Regions from separate parts of the Homo sapiens genome. Here region 2 is linked to region 1. The links come from fine-mapping of genetic effects on gene expression. A gene starts in region 1. The other region holds a variant in brackets. All regions are shown on one strand. Distances are between the middles of the regions.

What was found. PIP is the estimated chance that this variant, and not a neighbour inherited with it, causes the effect.
Region 2: its variant is fine-mapped to the expression of SP110 in monocytes (TOPMed, PIP above 0.99).

The regions. Positions count from the first base shown.
Region 1 is chr2:230,218,107-230,223,442 of GRCh38, reverse strand. It overlaps SP110 (SP110 nuclear body protein), which reads left to right and starts at 3,459. Exons shown (of 19, transcript NM_080424.4): 1 at 3,459-3,569. It also overlaps a transcript of SP140 not described here. RefSeq lists a silencer at 3,347-3,533 and an enhancer at 3,251-3,730.
Region 2 is chr2:230,166,673-230,172,032 of GRCh38, reverse strand. SP110 (SP110 nuclear body protein) reads left to right here. Exons shown (of 19, transcript NM_080424.4): 17 at 266-337; 18 at 1,272-1,412; 19 at 2,796-5,360. The coding sequence ends at 2,909. Among named protein-coding and RNA genes, the nearest start is that of SP110, 51 kb to the left of the region's middle. The variant T/C (reference allele first, on the strand shown) is at 2,104.

The sequences.
Region 1 (5,336 bases):
TTAAGAAAGTAGGCAGTCCAGGCAGGTTATATTGACTCACTTGCCCTTTGTCATAATATAGTTGAAAGATATCTGGATCACCTGGACATCCCATAGAATGTCAGACTGGGCTGGGCATGGTGGCTCATGCCTATAACCCCAGCACTTCGGGAGGCTGAGGCAGGCAGATCACGAGGTCAGGAGATCAAGACCATCCTGGCCAACATGGTGAAACCCCATCTCTACTAAAAATACAAAAATTAGCCAGGTATGGTGATGCGTGCCTGTAGTCCCAGCTACTCAGGAGGCTGAGGAAAGAGAATCACTTGAACCTGGGAGGCGGAGGTTGCAGTGAGCCAAGATTGCGCCACAGCACTCTAGCCTGGAGACAGACCGTGACTCTGTCTCAAAAAAAAAAAAAAAAGTCAGACTGATTGATGACATCATGCTGATCAGACAGGATGAGCAGGATCTTGGTGGCTAGCATACCTGCTAAAGAAGAATAAATTACTGACCCACAACAACAGAGATGAATCTCAAAAGCATGATGATGAGGAAAAGAAAGCCATACACCAAAAATGCATTCCATGTGCCTTCATTGATAAAAAAAAAAAAAAAAAAAACTTTAATACACACGAAACTAATCTGTGGTGATAGAAAGCAGATCAGTGGTTGCCTGGTGCTGGCCTTAAGGAGGGGATTGTTTGCAAAGGTCACAGGGAACTTTCTAGGGTAACAGAAATGGTCTGTATCTTTTTTTTTTTTTTTGAGACAGGGTCTCACTCTGTCACTGCTCACCAGAGACTGGACCTCCTGGGCTCAAGCAATTCTCCCACTTCTGTCTCCCTGATAGCGGGGACCACAGGTGTATGCCAACATGCCCAATTAATTTAAAAAAATGTATTTTTGTAGAGACGAGGTCTTGCTCTGTTGTCCAGGCTGGTCTCAAACACCTGGGCTCAAGCGATCCTCCTGCTTTGACCTCCCAGAATGCTGGGATTATAGGCACAAGCGACTCTCCAGGCCTAGAAATGGTCTACATCTTGACTGGTGTAGTAACTACATTTGGTAAAATGTACATTACAATGAATAAATTTTATACCTCAATAAAATGGAGCTAAAAAGAATTATGTATAATTTATCTCAGTACATAATCACTAGCATGTGAATTAACAGGTGACGTTTTCCCATTATTACCATGTTCTCAAGCATGCATTTTTTTTTTTTTTTTTTTGAGGCGGGATCTCACTCTGTTGCTCAGGCTGAACTGCTGTGGCGCAGTCTCAGCTCACTGCAACCTCCAGCTCCTGAGTTCAAGCGATTCTCATGCCTCAGCCTCCCGAGTAGCTCGGATTACAGGCATGTGCCACCACGCCCAGCTAATTTTTTTGTGTTTTTAGTAGAGACGGGATTTTGCCATGTTGGCAAGGCTGGTCTTGAATTCCTGGCCTCAAGTGATCTGCCTGCCTCAGCCTCCCAAAGTGCTAGCTAAGCTACAGGCCTGAGCCACTGTGCCCAGCCAAGCATATATGGCTTAGAATAAACATCTTTCATCCTCATTCGCAGCTGTCTTTTTTTCATGTAACAATTTTTGCCTGATTTGACATTGACTTTATTTTCCCACTCCTGCTTTACTTTTGTTTGTTTGTTTTGCATTTGCCTGGTGTATCTCTGAATAGATCTAAAGGAAGAAGTTCTTGCTGCCAGGATCCTCAGATGCCCATGAAGGGGCTTTCCAGGTGATGGGGAGGGGCTTCAGGTAAGTGACATGTGACATTTGCATAAAATAACCTTAATTCCTTTACCACCGCCATCCCCTGCATCACAGCGCTGTATGTTACTGCATGCTGAGGCATCAATGCACCCTCTCCTCAGCTGTTAGCATTGAATTTTTCCTGGCTGTGGCTTCCATGCCTCTGTTTCACCCACAGCCATTACCCGCAAGGCCGGGTCTGCTATTCTGTACATACTAGGGTGGGATATGCTGTTTGTGCCTGCATAGAAGGGCTTGCTCTTATGCAGTTAGCCTTGGTTTCAAAGCTTCTTAAACTTTAGATCCATGTCTCCCATCTTTTATCTGAGGAGTTTGTGGATGTCCTGGTAGGGGAACTTGTGGGTCAAATACATTTGAGAATTATTGATTTAATCAAAGTTACATAGAATTCTTTTTTTTTTTTTTTTTCGAGATGGAGTCTTGCTCTGTCACCCAGGCTGGAGTGCAGTGGTGCGATCTCGGCTCACTGCAACCTCCACCTCCTGGGTTCAAGCAATTCTCCTGCCTCAGCCTCCCAAGTAGCTGGGATTACAGGTTCCCGCCACCACATCTGGCTAATTTTTGTATTTTTAGTAGAGATGGGGTTTCACCATGTTGGCCAGGATGGTCTCAAACTCCTGACCTTGTGATCCACCCATCTCAGCCTCCCAAAGTGCTGGGATTACAGGCGTGAGCCACCGAGCCTGGCCCAAAGTTACACAGATTTCTATAGTGCAGTGGTGCAATCATAGCTCACCGCAGCCTTGAACTCCTGGGCTCAAGCAAGTCTCCAGCCTCAGCCTCCTCACTAACTAGGACTACAAGGTGCATGCCACCACACTCAGTTAATTTTTTATTTTTTTATTTTTTGTAGAGATGGGGTCTCACTATGTTGCCCAGACTGGTCTCAAACTCCTAGGCTCAAGCAATCCTCCCATCTTGGCCTCCTAAAGTCCTGGGATTATAGGCATGAGCCACTGTGCCTGGCCAATAGTTTAGGATTTTTCATAGGCCCCACATGTCAATGTACATTAGGGATCTTTAAAAGGGGCATGAGAAGGGGTGTCCCTGCCAGCCCTTGAGTTACTGCTCTCTGGAATCAGCAGGTCCCAGTTCTGCCTCAGACTCCTGGCTCCCAACTACCTGCCCAGCTCTCAGCCATTTTTCTGCCTGGAGGTCTGCCTGCCTCTGCACAATTCCAGTTCATGTGCAGGTTCCCTTTCATTTCAATTTCTTCCTGTAATAATCTTATCCTGACAAGTTCTAGGCATTTCTGGCACATTCTCTTTGTTTTTTTGTGTGTTGTTAGAGTTTGATAACACACTGGATAAATTCCAGTGAATTCATTCAGTTATGTAAACATCACCACAATCCAGTTTGAGAACATTTTCATCAACCTAAAATGTACAGAATGAGGACAAGTCATGGGAAAATAGATGTGGTTAGGGAAGCATTTGGACGCTGAGTTCCCAGTTCCTATTGCCGCTGGGGCTGTACCCTTATGCCTCCTCCTCCCATACCTCCCTCTCTGGGCTGATCCCAACTGGCAACACGCCCTCCCCCAAACCCCAACTGCCAAGACGTCCTGGGAGCCTCACAAGTGCCCATGAGGAGGTGGAGAGAGGCTGCAGGCACCGACCTGCCTTCAGCTTCCGGCTTGGCAAACTCCGAAAACTTTCACTTTTCTTTTCTCGGAAGCCCGGCCCCTTACTGCGTTTGTCAAAGCACAGACTTCCTGTTTTGCCTGCTAGCATCTCCCTGTAACTCTCCCAATCTTGAGGAGTGATCCCTGTCCCAGCCCCTGGAAAGGGGCAGGAACGACAAACTCAAAGTCCAGGTGAGTTTCTGTCTTTGCTGCTTTATTCTTCGCTCTTGGTGACTGCAGCTCTTAGAGTTAACTTCGCGGCAGCAGCTGCAGGGTGGAGTTCAACTATTTAAACTCTGAGGCTCTCTCAGAGCTCAGACATGTGGTACTTATTAGGAGACTGTTAAAAGGGGGCACATGGAGGGAACACTGACACCTCTTTTTTTCGCCAGAGTCCAGCCTGTTATTGTGAATGGAGCCGAGATTTGCCCTCTACCCTCACCTAAGCTCTGATCCTTCAGTGCCCGCAATAGGCGGCTCATCTGTTATCCATTGTGTAAATGACTAGAGGTACTTGGGAAGCTGGTGGAAAAGAAAAAAATGAGAGTACATTTAATTTCGTCTCTAGTGTATCATGAACTTTTTATATATTTTCTCTAAATACATGATTATTTCCTTGAAATAAATTATTAGAAGTGGAAATTCAAAGGAGCACATGTTTTAGGACATTTGACACTGATTACTAAATCAGCCTTCAGAACATTTGGACCTGTTGACCTTCCCACTCACAGTGTCTGAGATTATTACTATTATTTTCTATCTTGGCCAATTTGATAGACAAATATGTTATCAAATTGTCTTCATTTACACTTTTTTTGGTTGTTTGTTGTTGTTGTTTTCTGAGACGGAGTCTCGCTCTGTCACCCAGGCTGGAGTGCAATGGCACCATCTCAGATCACTGCAACCTCCACCTCCCAGGTTCAAGCGATTCTCCTGCCTCAGCCTCCTGAGTAACTGGGACTACAGATGTGCACCACCACGCCCAGCTAATTTTTGTATTTTTAGTAGAGACAGGGTTTCACCATGTTGGCCAGGCTGGTCTCGAACTCCTGACCTCAGCTGATCCGCCCACCTCAACCTCCCAAAGTGCTGGGATTACAGGCATGAGCCACCATGCCTGGCCTTCTTTATGCTTTCTACTAGCTAGTTAACATGCTTATCGTATTATTCATTGCACATTTGGCTTATTCTTTTATCACTCTCTGTTCATGTATTTTGCTTTTTTATTTTCTAGTTGGATGTTTGTCTTTTGCTTATTCGTTTGCAAAATCTCTTTACATAATAAAAATCTGAACAGTCATATATGAGATGTAGTATCTTGCATAGAAAGAAACAGGGCTTTAGAGTCAGACAAGCTCTGCTTTGCCACTGAATACCTTGGGTGAGTTACTAAACCTCTCTGTGCCTCCCTTTCATCTTTGGGACTCATGACAGATGAAGAATGAGGAAGCTCTAGACTTCCTGTTCTGAGCGCTGCTGTATAATGAATTGTTCTAAAAGGAGCCTCCAAGACCCCTTCCTCTTCTTAGTATATGTTTACTCTGCCTTTCTCTGACTTTGCACTGATCTTTGCACTATCTCCTTCCCCTGTGCATATTGTGGATAGTAGATTTCTCTCCTATCTGTTCTCTATCTTCCAAGACTTCTTTACCACCACAGACTCTCAATGGCATCTTTTCTTGTTTTCCTATGCGATTGCGGATTATTCTTTTCATGAGTATTTTTTTCTGCCAAGTTAAAAAAATTGGGGAATGAGGAGAAAGAGACTAGGGTGCTTAATCTGCCACTGGGATTAAATCCCTGTAAACAGTTGTTAATTACGATTTACTTTTCTGTTCAACACAAAATGAAGTTGGAAAAGTGGAATCCATGTTTGTTCTGTTTGTTAAAAACTGTCAAGTTGATTGAATGTTTTGTTAGTGCTTTTCCTTTTCTTGACAATTTGTCAAGAATGTCATT
Region 2 (5,360 bases), 51 kb after region 1:
TCCCTTCTCACACGAGAAGCACAAACAGGCACAGGGTCAGGGCAATGTACCAAAGGGAGCCTTCAATGTCTCCCTTTAAAGGATGACGATTTAATGCCCAAACTCAGAGTCTAAACAAAATCCCACACACCCTGTGCGCCTTGGGAAGCATGGCTGGAATGCTGACTGGGCTTGGCTGCCCCATCCGTGTGCATGTCTAGACACTCGCCTGGCTTCACTGTTTCTAAGCTGCATTTCACTTTCAAGCCCTCTTCACATTTTACAGAAATGTGAGTTCCTCCTCTTGAAGGCCTACTGTCATCCACAAAGCTCCTTTTTTACGGGCATCCCATTTAATGTAAGTCACATTTTACGGTTCTCTTGCATAAAATGCATTTGGAGAAATTTGGGGGCTGATCTGGCAGGTGCTGCAGTTTGCTCAGGAAGCTGGAGAACAGAAGAGAAGGGCAGCGTGGCAGCAGTGGAGCGGGGCAGCAGGGATTTTGCTGCACACTCTGGAGAGGGACTACCTGGTTCAAACTCCACCCCACTGCTCACGGGCTCTGGGATACCGGGCAAGTTGCTTCTCCTCCTGTGTATCTGTTTCATCTTCTCTTTAGGAAGAATGTCTTTCCTACTAGAGATTAAGAGTCACAGATGCCAGCTGGGCTCAGCGGCTCACGCCTGTAATCCCAGCACTTTGGGAGGCCAAGGCGGGCAGATCACTTGAAGTCAGGAGTTTGAGACCAGCTTGGCCAACATGGCAAAACCCCATCTCTACTAAAAATACAAAATTAGCCAGGCATGGTGGCAGGCACCTCTAATCCCAGCTACTCAGGAGGCTGAGGCAGGAGAATCGCTTGAACCCAGGAAGCAGAGGTTGCGGTGAGCCAAGATCGCACCACTGCACTCCAGCCTGGGTGACAAAGCAAGACTCCATCTCAAAAGAAAAAAAAGAGTCATAGATGCCAAACTGTGTGGGTTCCCATCTCAGCTCTACCACTTTCTTGCTGAGACATCTTGGGTAGGTTCCTTGACCTCTCCATCCCTCGGTTTCCTCATCTATGAAATGGGCATTATTATTTATGGTACCCATAAATGTGGAGATTACATATTCATATACTTGGCTTAGAATTTAGTTTATCTAGTGCCTAGAACAATAGCTGGCTTAAAGAGGTCAAATGGTATTATCATTATGACCCTGGAAATGAAGGCTTGGATTGTATTTAAGTTGGATCCATTCCAGTGATGACAGCTGTGCTAACGTCACCTCTGGTGGCTTTGTCCCCAAGATTCGAGATTACGGTGAGCCCTTTCAGGAAGCAATGTGGTTGGACCTGGTTAAGGAAAGGCTGATTACGGAAATGTACACGGTGGCATGGTTTGTGCGAGACATGCGCCTGATGTTTCGCAACCATAAAACATTTTACAAGGTAAAGAGCATTTCCTGCTTCCTTTTTGCGTCTTTTCTACTTTCCCCTAATTTCTGGGACAGCAGAATTTTGCAAGTATTACACTCAGTTTCAGCCTGGGGAGAGCTCAAACAAGACAAGGATTACAGAAAAAAAACCACCTCGGCATTCCTGGAGGCAAGGAGTGAGTGGCAAAAAGAACAGCAAGCAGGACAGGGGAGGGATCTCTGGAACAGAAGCTGAAAAAAACCATGCTCTGTTCCCAGATCGGCAGCTCGCTCCCAACGAGAGCAGTAAATGGCATCCAGCCTCTTTGTTCAAACTGGAAGGAAAGGCAGTTTATGCCTACATTGTTCTTCCTGCCTCAGAAATATGAAAATAAATAAGTAAACAACATAAAATCAATTAAACTTCCTGGATAATCAGGCTTGCATATTTTTACACATAAATTTCTCATTGGACTCAAACATCTGGAATTGCCTTCAGATCCAATGTTGGTTTCATCCTCCTTTACTAGGGAGGGACAGCTGGTTGAGCTATCCTGCAATCCCAGACATTTGTAACTTTGGTTTTTCCTGATTTTTATCCTCACTTGTACAGATATTTCTTGGGAGGTACCTAAGGAAGATTTTCATCTCCACCCAGCTTCCTTCCCTTCTTCCATGCCAGGAGTTGGCATGTTCACAAACCACAGATTGTAAACTGGTACCCA[T/C]TCATGGAGCTGCAGGGAGAAAGGGTTGACCAGAGAGCCACTCAGTGCCTGGCATATCCGTAGTCCTGGAGAACAGAGGGTCATCCTTCCTCAGCGAGTGGGCTTCCAAGAAATGCATTTACAAAAATTGTTAAGCTATTTTGCATCATGCTCAGATTTGCCATGATCAAAACTAACCCTTCAGTCTAAATCGCCTGTCAGGTGGAAATTAACAACCAGCTGGAGTCTCATGCTTTTCAACATTTTAGTAGCAGCATCTCCCCATCCATTCTGCCTTACTGCTGGGCTCCTAAAAAAATAAGAGTGAGGCTGGGCATGGTGACTCACATCTGTAATCCCAGCTTTTTGGGAGTCCGAGGTGAGGGAATCATCTGAGGCCAGGAGTTTGAGACCAGCCTGAGCAACATAGCAAGGCCTCCTCACCCCGATCTCTGAAAGAGAAAAAAATGTTTTAAAACTTTGGGCATAGTGGCATGTGCCTGTAGTTTCAGCTTCTCAGGAGCTGAGGTGGGAGGATCACATGAGCCCAGGAATTCAAGGCTGCAGTGAGCCATGACGGTGCCACTGCACCACAGCCTGGGTGACGGGGAAAGACCCTGACTCAAAAACAAAAACACAAAAAAAAGTATGAGTGATTTGATGGCTGTAATCCTTCATCCTTCAATGTGTTTGTTTGCTTTTTTCTCTTTCAGGCTTCTGACTTTGGCCAGGTAGGACTTGACTTAGAGGCAGAATTTGAAAAAGATCTCAAAGACGTGCTCGGTTTTCATGAAGCCAATGACGGCGGTTTCTGGACTCTTCCTTGACCCTGTTCTGTAAAGACTGAAGCATCCCCACCTCAGGATTCAGCTGATGGGACCCTGGCTTGGACTGTTGATTGCCAGTGAGTCTGGGATGTAATTGGCTGCCCTCAGGACCCAAACCCAGACACTTCATAGGATTATCACACCCTCCATCTTTATTCTTTCTTTTTACCTTTAAAAGTCTATATCTACACTAAAAAAAAAAAAAATTAATACTTCCTTAATACCATCAGATACCCCATCATAGTTCACATTCTCCCCACTGTCTCATAAGTCTTTTTAGAGTTGATTTGTTCAAATCAGGATCTAAACAAGTTCCACACACTGCATTTGGCTCTCCTGTCCCTATGTCTCTTTTAAGCTATAAATTGTCATGTATTTATTGAAGAACTCAGGGTTTTGGTCCTATTACATTTTTTGCAATCTGGAATTTTCTGGTTGCATTTTCTTAGTGGTATAGTCCTCTCTTCCTCTCATTTTTTGTAAGCTAGAAGTTAGATCTAGAAGCTTGCTTTAACTCAGGTTTTGAGGGGTTTGTTTTGATTTGGGGGTTTTGGGGCACATGCAGGCTTCACAGGGGAATTTAGTATTATTTTTTATGTTAAGGTTGGCAGCAGGTGCACGTGTTATCAGCCTGATCATCTATCACCTGATGGTTTTAGCAATACCTAAATCCGTGATATCATCAGAGGTTGCAAAATGATGAGATTCAGGTTTTTTTTTACATAATTATTGGTCAGAATTATTCTGCAAATAGCTTCTCTTTAACAGTATTCGGTTACCTTGAAATACAGGTTGTACAAAAAATAGGATAAATGCTTGTTTTTTTATTTAGCAATGTTCAAAATAATGAATTGATGTCCCAATATCCTCTAAAGGTAACCAGGGATTTTTTAATTTAATTATCTTGAACCCACATATTTAAATATACGTAGCATGCTACAAACCATTGCAGTTAATACCTTTATTGATGCTTGAGTTGCCCACTTTTTCTTTTTTTTTTTTTTTTTTTTTTTTTGAGACAGAGTCTCACTCTGTCACCCAGGCCGGAGTACAGTAGCGTCATCTTGACTCACTGCAACCTCCTCCTCCTGGGTGCAAGCGATTCTCCTGCCTCAGCCTCCGAGTAGCTGGGATTACAGGCATGTGCAAGTTCCCCACTTTTAGTGAGAAACTCCTCAATTTGCCTCCTGAGTTGTTTTGAAATGACCCCAGAACTCTTTGATGGTGTATTAGCTATCTATTGCTGTGTAACAAATGACCTCAAAGCTTAGCTGCTTAAAAAGAAAAAAACATTTTATTGCTCACTATTCTGTGGATCAAGAATTCAGGCATCATCCATGAGGATGCTTCCCTTTGCTCCACATGGTACTGGCAGACCCCATTCATACTTGCACACTGTCACTTCTGCCACAATCTATTGGTGAAAGCAAGTCACAGGGACAGATTCAGAAGGAGGGAGAATAGACCTTACCTCTTGATGCGATGGGTGGCAAAGTCACATTTCAAAGGAGAATGTTGCTTGGGAAGAAACATTGCTGCTCCCATCTTTAGAAGCAATCTACCATAGTTCACCCTCTGGCCACAGTAGTTCACATCTTTCCCAAATGCAAAGGACACTCCTCTCCCCACAGAAGTCTCACTCTCTGCAGCATTGGAACAAAGTCCAGGACCTCCTTATCTAAATCAGGTTCAGATCAGATAAAGCTTCTTCGGGCTGGGCACAGTGGCTCACACCTGAAATCCCAGCACTTTAGGAGGCCGAGGCAGGTGGATCGCTTGAGTCCAGGAGTTGAAGACCAGCCTGGGTAACATGGCAAAACCTCATCTCTACAAAAAAAAAAAAAAAAAAATCTTTTTAATTAGCTGGGCAAGGTGGCACACACCTGTAGTCCCAGCTACTCAGGAGGCTGAGGTGGAAGGATGAGCCTGGGAGGCAGAGGTCGCAGTGAGCCAAGAATGCACCACTGCACTCCAGCCTGGACAACAGAGACCCTGCCTCAAAAAAAAAAAAAAAAAAAGGAAAGAAAACAAAAGAAATAGGCTCCTCAGGTATGGTTTATTGGGTGCAGCTCCTTGGGTGCACCTCCTCTTGAACTAGAGGCCTGTGAGCTGAAAAATTGTTTCTTCCCTGCTGCCAACAGTCAGTGATGAAACAGGGACTGAACAACTACTATAGACACTTCCATTCAAACGGGGAAAAAGGAAGCAGCAGTCACTCATTTATAGCAATTCTGAAATCCAGTCAAGCACATGTTGCTAGTTCCCCCTAATCCCAGGGCAGGAAATTTTCCTTGATACATGATTTATATGTATGATACACCTCTAATTCCCATCCCATCCCATCCTACCCCACAGGCTTCTTCCTTGTCTTCCTCGGTTCTGTATTGGTGTCTCCCTTCTCCAACAGTATTATTTACTCACTTGCTCAATCCCCAGGTACAACAATAAAAG